Linked DNA regions of Homo sapiens: region 1 is linked to region 2. The links come from fine-mapping of genetic effects on gene expression. A gene starts in region 2. The other region holds a variant in brackets. All regions are shown on one strand. Distances are between the middles of the regions.

What was found. PIP is the estimated chance that this variant, and not a neighbour inherited with it, causes the effect.
Region 1: its variant is the best candidate, but not a certain one, in a credible set for the expression of XPO6 in whole blood (TOPMed, PIP 0.61).

Annotation. Positions count from the first base shown.
Region 1 is chr16:28,143,753-28,149,127 of GRCh38, forward strand. It overlaps XPO6 (exportin 6), which reads right to left. Exons shown (of 24, transcript NM_015171.4): 9 at 2,342-2,451. Among named protein-coding and RNA genes, the nearest start is that of XPO6, 66 kb to the right of the region's middle. RefSeq lists an enhancer at 2,817-3,332. The variant T/A (reference allele first, on the strand shown) is at 2,238.
Region 2 is chr16:28,208,893-28,214,267 of GRCh38, forward strand. XPO6 (exportin 6) reads right to left here and starts at 3,073. Exons shown (of 24, transcript NM_015171.4): 1 at 2,474-3,073. The coding sequence starts at 2,476. RefSeq lists silencers at 16-310, 2,821-3,310 and an enhancer at 2,193-3,191.

The sequences.
Region 1 (5,375 bases), 65 kb before region 2:
CAGCCTCCCAAGTAGCTGGGATTACAGATGCCTGCCACCACGCCCAGCTAATTTTTGTGTTTTTAGTAGAGACAGGGTTTCACCTTCTCAGCCAGGCTGGTCTTGAACTCCTGACCTCGTGGTCCCCCTGCCTTGGCCTCCTAAAGCGCTGGGATTACAGGCAGGAGCCACCGCACTCGGCCTTGTACTGTTTTTTAAAAAGCATTTTCATATTAATCATTTCCTCAGTTTATTCTCACAACAAGCTTGAGAGATATGAAGGAATATCTACCACTAAATATAGAAAAATGAGGCATAGTCCCAGAACCAAAAAGATATGCCTATTTAGCATGCAAGAAAGATTATTTTGGCAAAAGTAACTTTTCCTTCAAGAATCTCATTTCAAAAACATAATTACTTAAAGTTGGCAACTTCACCAAAAACAGGATCTCCTGTGTGTAATACGATTTCTGATATATGAACGTACTACCTATAATCACACATGTGACCTGACACCATAGCAACCTGGAACTTATTCCACAATTACAAAAACCATCTTTGGGAACAAAAGAACAAATGTTTAAACTTGGAAAATAAAATTCTCAACAGAATATTTGCATATTTATTTATTTTAATTTTCAATAGAGACAGAGTTCAGCAAATGGTACCAGTGACTGGTACCAAGAGACACAAGGAGTCTCACTATGTTCCCAGCCTGGAGAGCAGTGGCCAGCCACAGCGTGATCACTGCACACAACAGTTCTGAACTCCTGAGCTCCAGCGATTCTTCTGCCTCAGCCTCCCATGTGGCTGAGACTACAGGTACATACTACCACATCTAGGTCCTGTTTAGAATTTTTTAAACTCATAAAACCTCAGCAATGGAAAAGCCTTTGGAGTTCCAGCCCAACCTTTTCTCTGCAGTGGAGTCTCTCCTCTCCACCTTCCTCCATTTGGTACATTTATGGGGAAAGAGTATTCACTAACACCACCACCAGGTGAACACTTGCAGTGTGCCAAGCATTCTAAATATGTTAGTTCGTTATTTCAATTAATGTCTCAACAACTATTATTTTCATCCTCATTTTACAAATGAGGAAACAGAAGCTTCCACAGGCTAAGTACCTTACCCAAGTACCCCTAGGTAGGAACTACAAAACCAGGATCCAAACATAGGTCTGTGCGATTCCCCGTCATGGCTTCCACTCGACAGAACCCCCTCATGCACTGGTTTTACAACACAATGACCACCTAATCTGAAATTGCTCTTATAAATACTGTGCAAAGAAGTAGGAGCTATAACCAAACTGAGTAAAATCTGCAGGCACTCTGTTAAGTATGATAAAGTACTTAGGGCTAGATCACCTAGTTTGTAATCTCATAGCATAAATATACAAATTACACGAATCAGTTTTAGTTTATTAGGAAACTACTCTGATCCTAAAATGCAAAATATAGCTTCTTTGCCTCCTTCATGACTGCCTGCTCACTGTGTGACTGGGATGCAGTCACCTACTGAGACTATGATGGGTATGTTTCTGCTAAGAAAAGCTGCCACATTTACTTTCCCCATATATGGATGCTGCCATTATTTTCCTGGCATGCTGAATCTCCACCTTCCCCTCCTCTTCTCCCCACCCTGTGGCACAAAGAACATATTGTACAGGAAATATACTCTCTTCCTGCAAGCAAGAAAAATGGGTTTGAGAAACATATGGGGGGGGAAACAAACCATTCCGCATTCTCTGTTTTTTAAAAATACAACAAAAAGTGCAAAAGCAATTATCTCTGGGGTGTGGGATTATGTTTATCTTCCTTACATTTTCCTATATCTTTTCCTAGATTTAAAAATGAACACCTTTTTCTTAACAGGTATTTATTAATTTATTTAGGAAATTTTCAAACACATACAAATGGGGTAAGAACATAATGAACCCCAAGTTCCTAGGAACTAACTCCAACATCAATCACCAACACATGGGCAGCCTGTTTCTTCTCTACAGGAACCCACTTCCCTTCTACCCCCACTGGGTTATTTAAGCAAATCCCAGATGTCATATCATTTTATCCAATAAATACTTCAGTTTGTATCTCTAAAATAAGGGCTATTAAAAAATTAAGAACATTAACACAAATGCACTAAAATATAAAAAATTAGTAATACATATTACTTTTAAAATTTTAAAAAGTCTTAACAAAATACTTAAAGGAGAAAAAAAAGGAAATGCTCAATGGCATTATTGCCTAAACAGCTTACA[T/A]GACTCAGCTTCACTGAAAAGGTCCAAATGCATGGCTGTCTCTTAGGCCACTAGAATAACTGGCAAAATGACCATATCTAGTTTTCAGTGTTTGAGGAGTTTACCTGTTGAGAACTGCTTCCTTGTCTCCAAGACGACTTTTAATTTTACTTGTCAGATAGTCCAAAAACAGCGTCCAGATATCCAAACAAGAGAAGTAACCTTCATGAGTAGGCTATGGTACAAAAAAAATCCAGACAATGAAATTATTTAATGCTACTATTCCTTAGAAACACACACATGCCAGTGTTTAATTCCAGCAGAATGATGAAATCATAAGCCTAGATTCCCCAGTTTCCTGGTAACCAAAACTGGTGGCTTTTAGTCGGTCTATACCATTGGGCCCTCCTGAACCTTACAAGACAAGGGTACCATGGAACACATCATGAGGGAGATACTGTGCAGCATAAACTGAGTTATAAAATAAGTCAAGCAAAAACCTATCTTAAAATCTGAGACTGGTAGAGAGGGCTCTTACAGATCATCTAGTTTAAATCTATTTTCCAGAGAGAAATCGAGATTCAGAGATATAAGTTGTTCAAGGCCAGAGGTAAAAACAAGTCCCTTTACCCCCAGCCAATGCTCTTTCCATTACAAACCATTACGAAAGCAAAAATCAGTTTCAGTGGCTCCAAAGGTGACAGGTTCACACATTTGAATGTAAGGAAAGTAACACTTGCAGTCTTCCTACAGAACAGACTGAAAATGAGCTCATTAAGTCTGACCCTCAGGGCATTATCCCATTTGCAAAAGCAAGGGTGTCAAACGTGCTAATAGCAACCTCCAACCAGGTGCTGATGTGGAGGAACAAAGTGAGAAGTCTTTGTAGGATCCTAGTAGTACAATGAAGACCACTGCACTAGTTAACTTTCTCAAGGGCTCTGAGACTCTATTTCATGCAAAGTCCAGGCAACACAATCTCCAACAGCTACTCCTTCCCCTATGCATTCAGGTTCAACTTGTGGCTCCAAACCCTGATATCTCCACTCAAATGCTCACTACCTGAAAGACTCCTTTGGTTTTGCTGGTGGCTGTCTCACTGGACCACATATTTGGTGACAAGATCAAATATGAAAATAAATAATAACATGACCTTCTTGGATCAGTTTCTTTCCATTGCTGATCCACATGGAAATCTAGACGTTTACAAGGGCATACATGGAGGTGCCCAAGAAATAACTAACAATGGGTGGTGGTATCCAGTGGGAGTTCTGTACCTAAGCTGAAGTCTGAGACAGAATAAGTGTAACTTGGCTGGGCGTGGTGGCTCATGCCTGTAATTCCAGCATTATGAGAGGCCACGGCAGGTGGACTGCTTGAGACCAGGAGTTCGAGACCAGCCTGGGCAACATAGTGAGACTCGGTGTGTATATTTTAGAAAAAAAATTAAAATAGGAAAGGAAAGGAAGAAAAAGAAAGAAAAAAGAAAAGAGTGTAACTTAAAAAGCCAGGCAAATTCCAACTTCACGACCCAAAGGGTAGCTCTGGAACTAGACAGGACCAACCTCAGAAAACAAAATGACCAAGTCCTGTCTCTACCTCATACTTGGCAATACTGACAATATCCACGACATGAAGTGAACCAGGAGAATAACCAGGAAAAACAATGAATAAGCCACATGGAAATGATACGGCAGCCAGACCGAGTGGCTCACATCTGTAATCCCAACACTTTGGGAGGCCCAGGCGGGTGGATCTCTTGAGGTCAGGAGTTTGAGACCACCCTGGCCAACATGGTGTAAACCCTTTCTCTACTAAAAATACAAAAATTAGCCGAGCATGGCGATGCACGCCTGTGATCCCAGCTACTCGGGAGGCTTAACAGGAAAATCGCTTGAATCCAGGAGGCGGAGGTTGCAGTGAGCTGAGATCGTGCCACTGCACTCCAGCCTGGACAACAGAGCAAGACCCTGTCTCAAAAAAAAAGAAGAAATGATATGAGTAGTCCTTGGACAGGCCACTAGACTTGCCCATCCAAGAGACACACTCTTGTCCTAGGTTCAACTTGCTGAGCTTCCCTCAAGTCAATCACCAAGGTTATCCCTCCTTGGTTCAAAACTATCCACTAGCCCCCTCAAAAGAGCACAGCTCATCAGATGCATATGGAAGTGCCTTTGGGAAAGGTTACCACATAAATCCAAGTATTATGGCTCCGTCAAAGTACTTTATAATTATACATATAAACTTCATGCATGTGAATTGAGGACTTGCTATATGCTCAAGGCTGGGGGAAAGGTGAGCAGACACACCCTGTATAACCTGAAGCACCACCTTTCACATCCATTCCTGCAGGCCCCACTGCGAGGGCTTGTGCACTGCCCACAGGCCGCCCATGACCTGGCCTCTGATAGTTGCTGTGGACATGGTTCATTCCGGTCATCAAGATGATGGGCTGGCTCCATTTTTGAAGTCGCCTAACTTTTCAAAACCTTCACAGACCCATTTTTAAAATGGACCTAGACCCCAATTTACTTTTCAGATTCCAGGGCTACAAATCCAGGTTTCTTTAAGAAACTAATGATACCATTCTATCTTCCAAGTGGTTTACAGTGTTTAGTTTTCATTTGCATTGGTCTATGTGATCTTCATAAGTCTTGGAAAGTGAACAAATATTTTGCATCTTCCCCTTTTACAGATAAAGAAACCAAGGCTCAAAAGTCAAGTCCAGTCGTATCTTGCCCAAGGTAACAAGACAATTAAGGAACAAAATCAGAACTAGAAAGTGGATCTTGGCCAGGCACGGTGGTTCACACCTGTAATCCCAGCACTTTGGGAGGCTGAGTCAAGTGGATCACCTAAGGTCAGGAATTCGAGACCAGCCTGGTCAACACGGTGAAACCCTATCTCTACTAAAAATACAAAAAATTAGCCGGGTGGGATGGTGCTTGCCTGTAATCCCAGCTACTCAGGAGGCTGAGAGGTAGAACTGCTTGAACCCAGGAGGCAGAGGTTGCAGTAAGTCAAGATCGCACCATCGCACTCCAGCGTGGGCGACAAGAGTGAAACTCTGTCTCCAAAAAAAAAGAAAATAAAAAAAAAAAAAAACAAAAGGAAGGTGGATCTTAAGGCTCTGTGGTCCACAGCCCTCCCCCCCAGGGT
Region 2 (5,375 bases):
TCACAGCAGTATTATTCACAATAGCCAAAGGGTGGAAGCAACCCAGGTATCCACCGAAGGATGAAAGGATATATGAAATGCAGCACATACTCACAATGGAATTCAGCTTTCAAAAGGAAGGAAGCTCTGACACACGCCACCACACGGATGAAGCTTGAGAACACTGTGCCATGTGAAATAAGGCAGTCACAACAGGCCAAATACTTCATGACTCCACTTACATGAGCTACCTAAAGTAGTCAAATTCATAGAAATAGAAACTAAAGTAGGGCAGGGGAGAGACTGAAAAAAGACGGGTACAGGTTGTTTTGGGAAAAAACCTTTGGAGATATATGGTGGTGATCGTTGCACAACAATGTGAATGTTCTTAATTTCACTAAACTGTACACTTAAAAATGGTTAAAATGGCTAATTTTAATTATGTATATTTTACTACAATTAAAAAACAAAACTTAAGTATATTGAGGCCGGGCGCGATGGCTCATGCATGTAATCTCAGCACTTTGGGAGGCCGAGGCGGGTGGATCACCTGAGGTCAGGAATTCAAGACCAGCCTGACCAACATGGTGAAACCCCATCTCTACTAAAAATACAAAATTTAGCCGGGCATGGTGGCGCATGCCTATAATCCCAGCTACTCGGGAGGCTGAGGCAGGAGAATCACTTGAACCCGGGAGGCAGAAGTTGCCGTGAGCTGAGACTGCACCACTGCACTCCAGCCTGGGCAACAACAGCTGAACTCCATCTCAAAAAAAAAAAAAAAAAAAGCATTACTGAAAGAATAAATGAAGGAAGGAATGAGTGCTACTTTCATTAGCCACTAAATGTTATACCTCATACCTCTAGATTACTCTTTAGAGAAATCCTATCCCCAAATTTCATAGTTGAGGAAATTGGAACTGAGAGCTTAACTGATTTGCCACAATTCATACTGTGTAATATATATGTTAAAATACATAGACTCAGCTGTGCACGGTGGCTCACGCCTGTAATCCCAGCACTTTGGGAGGCTGAGGAGGACGGATCACTTGAGCTCAGGTTCAAGACCAGCCTGGGGAACGTGGTGAGACCTCATCTCCACAAAAAATTAGCCAGGCATGGTGGCACTTGCCTGCAGCCCCAGCTACTTGGGAGGCTAAGGTGGGAGGACTGCTTGAGCCCAGGAGGTCGAGGCTGCAGTGAGCCATGAACGTGCCACTGCACTCCAGCCTAGGAAACAAAGCAAGACCCTGTCTCAAAACAAATAAAAATAAAACACATACACTATACGTATAGCATATACTGTACGGTGCTGCTCAGCATTAATGGTGTACTTTACCCAGCTGGTTGTAAGCTCCATATCTCAGGACCTACACACTACCCACAGGCCCCTTGAATGTTTCGAAAATTCCACAGGCCTTAAGGTCTGTATCACAAAAGATGCAGCTATGTCCCTTTCTCTATTATACCACTAACTTGGCAGGGGTAAAATGGGTGAAACTGAGGAGAACAGCTCCACTCCTCGAGGTGCTCAACCACAGGCTAGGTGATCCAGTACTTACCAAGGGCTTACTATGTGCCAGGAGCTGGAGCAGATAAGGGTTCAAACAATTTGGTCTTTGAAGGAGCTGTGTATACCGCAATAGACAGATAAGGCTCAGAAATAATTACAAGAGCAAAAAGGCAAATGCTTAACAAAGAGATGTGGGTACACACATTTAGGGGAGTATTGAAAGTATCGGTCTAGAAAACGTGGAGATGTGGATACACAAAGAGATGTGAGTACACACATTTAGGGGAGTATTGAAAGTATCGGTCTAGAAAACGTGGAAGGTAGCTTCAGCAGAGATCAGAGCATGTAGAATAGCAGCCTCAGTGTCAAAAGATCACGACCATTCCTGACTTTGCCATCACCTGTGCAAGTGACCTCTGTAAATCGCTCTGTTTCCTCATATATAAACCTACAGCTAGATGAGATGTTTCTCCTACAATCACCCAGCTCTCTAAGTGTATTAGAGATGCCTAGGTTCAAAGTCAGATGCCTAGGTTCAAATCTTAACACTGTTAAAAAGTCGCTTGACCTTGAGCTGGGGAATTAATTGCTCCGTGCCTCAGTCTCCCCACTTCCGAACAGAGGGCTGGTGTGATCATTAAATACTACTGCACTGTCAATCACTTCGCGCAGGGCCTTGGCAAGTAGTAAGCCCTCAATAAACGATAGTTATTATCCGGAGGAGCTGCAGGAGGCAAACACCAGATGCAAGGGTTGTGCCTGCTGCGCTCCCAGGGCCCTCCCAGGCCTGAGCCATCATCCCTGGGGGGATGGGAGCGCAGGGCCGGGGCTGCACACTCTGCACGCATGTGTCACCGGCCAGGCTCCGCACGCGCCTCTCCCCGCCATGGGGAGAGCAGCGATGGCTCAGCAGCCCCGGGGCCCATTCCCACCCTTCCGGTAGGGCACCCCAGGAGGGAAGGGGGCTCCAATTCCACTTACCATGCTGGCCGGGGAGGGGGCGGCTCAGATGAGCTGGTTCTTGGGCTTCGGACACGTCCCGCTCGCACAGTTCAGGTCATGGTCCCGGCAGACTCGGGAAGTCCCCCACCCATGCAAAGACAACCCCTTCCCCACCGGGCCCCGAGGGGACCCTCTAAAAAGGGCAGGGCCGCCCGGGTCGCCTCATCGGGGGACCCCGAGACAATTCATCCAGACCCACCCGCCCCTCCCCAAGGAAACTGAAAAAGCAGGAAATGAGGCTCGGATGCCGGCGAGGAGGGCAGCTGCTCGGGACCCCCGCCCGGGCCCGACCCCCGCGGGGGAGGCTGCGGGCCCAGGCAGGGGCTCCCCGGCCTCCGCGGGCAGAGGTGGCGGCGGCCCCGGCCCCGAGGCTGAACGGGCGGAGGCTGACAGGCCTCGACCGCGCGGCCCAGGCGGCCGGCTCAGGGGAGAGGCCCGGGGGCCCGCGCTGTCCTCGCAGCCTCAACCCACACGGCCACTGCCGCCGCCCCCTAGAGCATCCTTGCGCGCGCCCGCCCTGGAGCCGCCCGCTAGTACCGCGCGGCCGCCCCCGACCAACAGCCCCAACGCGCCGGAAGTGGCGAGCGCCGGGCGGCCCCACAGCGCGGCCGCCGGGCTGCGGCGCTGGAACCGGACCAATCCGGAATCGAGCGGGGCGAGCGGGGGGAGCGGGCGGAGGGCGGAGGGCGGGGCTGCACCTGACGGCTCCCACTGGCCCCGCCTTCTTACCACGCCCTCTCTTGCCCCGCCCCCTGCGCCCACCGCCCGTGCGTCCACGCGGGCCGGCAGCCATCTTGGTAAAGGGAGCCCGGGCTGCCATTTTAGTAAAGGCGTGGTTTCCCTTTCGCTTTTTTCGCCCATTCATTCCGCTAAAATTTTAGTGAGTGCCTTTTACGGGCGGAGCATCGAGCTGGCAGCGTGACGACACGCGGCCCTATGGAGCTTACATTCATGCAGTCCACACACTCTTGCCCGACTATATTCCAGGCCCTGCTGTGGATGCTAGGACAGGGGAGATAAACGTAACTTCGATAGCCAAGGTGCTGAGAGAGGCAGAGAATGTGTTGGATTCCTGTTCCCATCCTCCAATCCACTTTACTCGTGAAAGTGCTCATCTTTATTTTGTTTTATTTTTGGGGACAGGTTCTTGCTCTGTTGCCCAGGCTGGAGTGCGGTAACACAATCATGGCTCACTGCAGCCTCAACCTCCTGGTGCGCCACCATGCCCAGCTAAATTTTTTTATTTTTTGCAGAGGTGAGGCCTCCTTTTGATGCTTGGGCTGGTCTGGAACTCCTGGGCTCAAGCAGCTTTCCTGCCTCAGCCTTCCAAAGTGCTGGGATTACAGGTATGAGTCATCCAGCCAGGCTGAAAGTGCTAATTTTAAGAAACAGTCAGGAAACTATCCCAAACAGCTGAGGTTGAGCCCGCGGGTGTGCCTACTACATAGATTGGAGCAAATCTATGTAACCCAATGGCCCTTGTCAACCTTAAATAACGAGATTGAGAAAATAGTATTTAAGTATAGGGTTTATTCAAGCCCGAAGCTTGAAGATGGCCCACCAGAAGTATAGTCCAATTAGTGGCAGTTACAAATGGGGTTTCCTTGTTTGTTTGTTTGTTTTTAAGACAGGGTCTTGCTCTGTCGCCCAGACTAGAGTGTAGTTTGTTGTTGTTGTTGTTTGAGACGGAGTCTCGCTTTGTCGCCCAGGCTGGAGTGCAATGGTGCAATCTCAGCTCACTGCAACTTCCGCCTCCCGGGTTCAAACGATTATCCTGCCTCAGCCTCTCGAGTAGCTGGGACTACAGGCACCCACCATGATGCCCGGCTATTTTTTTTATTTTTAGTAGAAACGGAGTTTCACCATAGTGGCCAGGCTGGTCTTGAACTCCCGACCTCAGGTGATCCGCCAGCCTCGGCCTCCCAAAGTGCTGGGATTACAGGCGTGAGCCCTCCCGCCTGGCTTCAAGTGGGTTTCTAAGGAAAAAAGAGGCATAACATAAGGTTGAATAGGAATGATGAGAAAGGGGGAAAAAATAACATAAGCTATTGCCTATACATTGTTCTTTGTATCACAAATTTCAGGAACCTGAAGGAAATGGGGGAGGCAGCTAGTCTGGAACAAAATATCTTTAAACAATTGTCCCCGAGCATGTGGAGGTGGGAGTGTGCCCGAACTCCCATACACAAGTCTCAGTGGACCTGACAAATTTTGCATACTTCACATAACTCAGACTTCCCTGAGCTATTTTTCTTTCCTGTCAAACCTCAGTGTGATCTGAATCAATTCACCCAGAAGGACTGTTAAAACAAAGATTACTCGCTCCACTCATAGACTTTCCCATCCAGTAGGTTTGAGATGGGGCTGAATAATTTGCATTTCTAACAAGCTCCCAAATGAAGCTGATGCTGCAGGTCTAGATACCACATTTGGAGAACCACTGATACAACACTTTACCACTGAAAGCAATAGCTTTCAGGGGTTTTTTAGTTTTTTGTTTGTTTGTTTGTTTGTTTGTTTTTGGAGAAAGGGTCTCACTCTGTTGCAGTGACATGATCATGGCTCACTGCAGCCTCAAACTCCCAGCCTCAAGCACTTTTTTTTTTTTTTTAATGAGACAGAGTTTCGGTCTTGTTGCCCAGGCTGGAGTGCAATGGCATGATCTCGGCTCACCGCAACGTCCGCCTCCTGGGTTCAAGCAATTCTCCTGCCTCAGCCTCCCAAGTAGCTGGGATTACAGGAGCCCACCACCGCACCCAACTAATTTTTTGTATTTTCAGTAGAGACGGGGTTTCACCATGTTGGTCAGGCTGGTCTCAAACTCCCGACCTCAGGTGATCCACCCGCCTCGTCCTCCCAAAGTGCTGAGATTACAGGCATG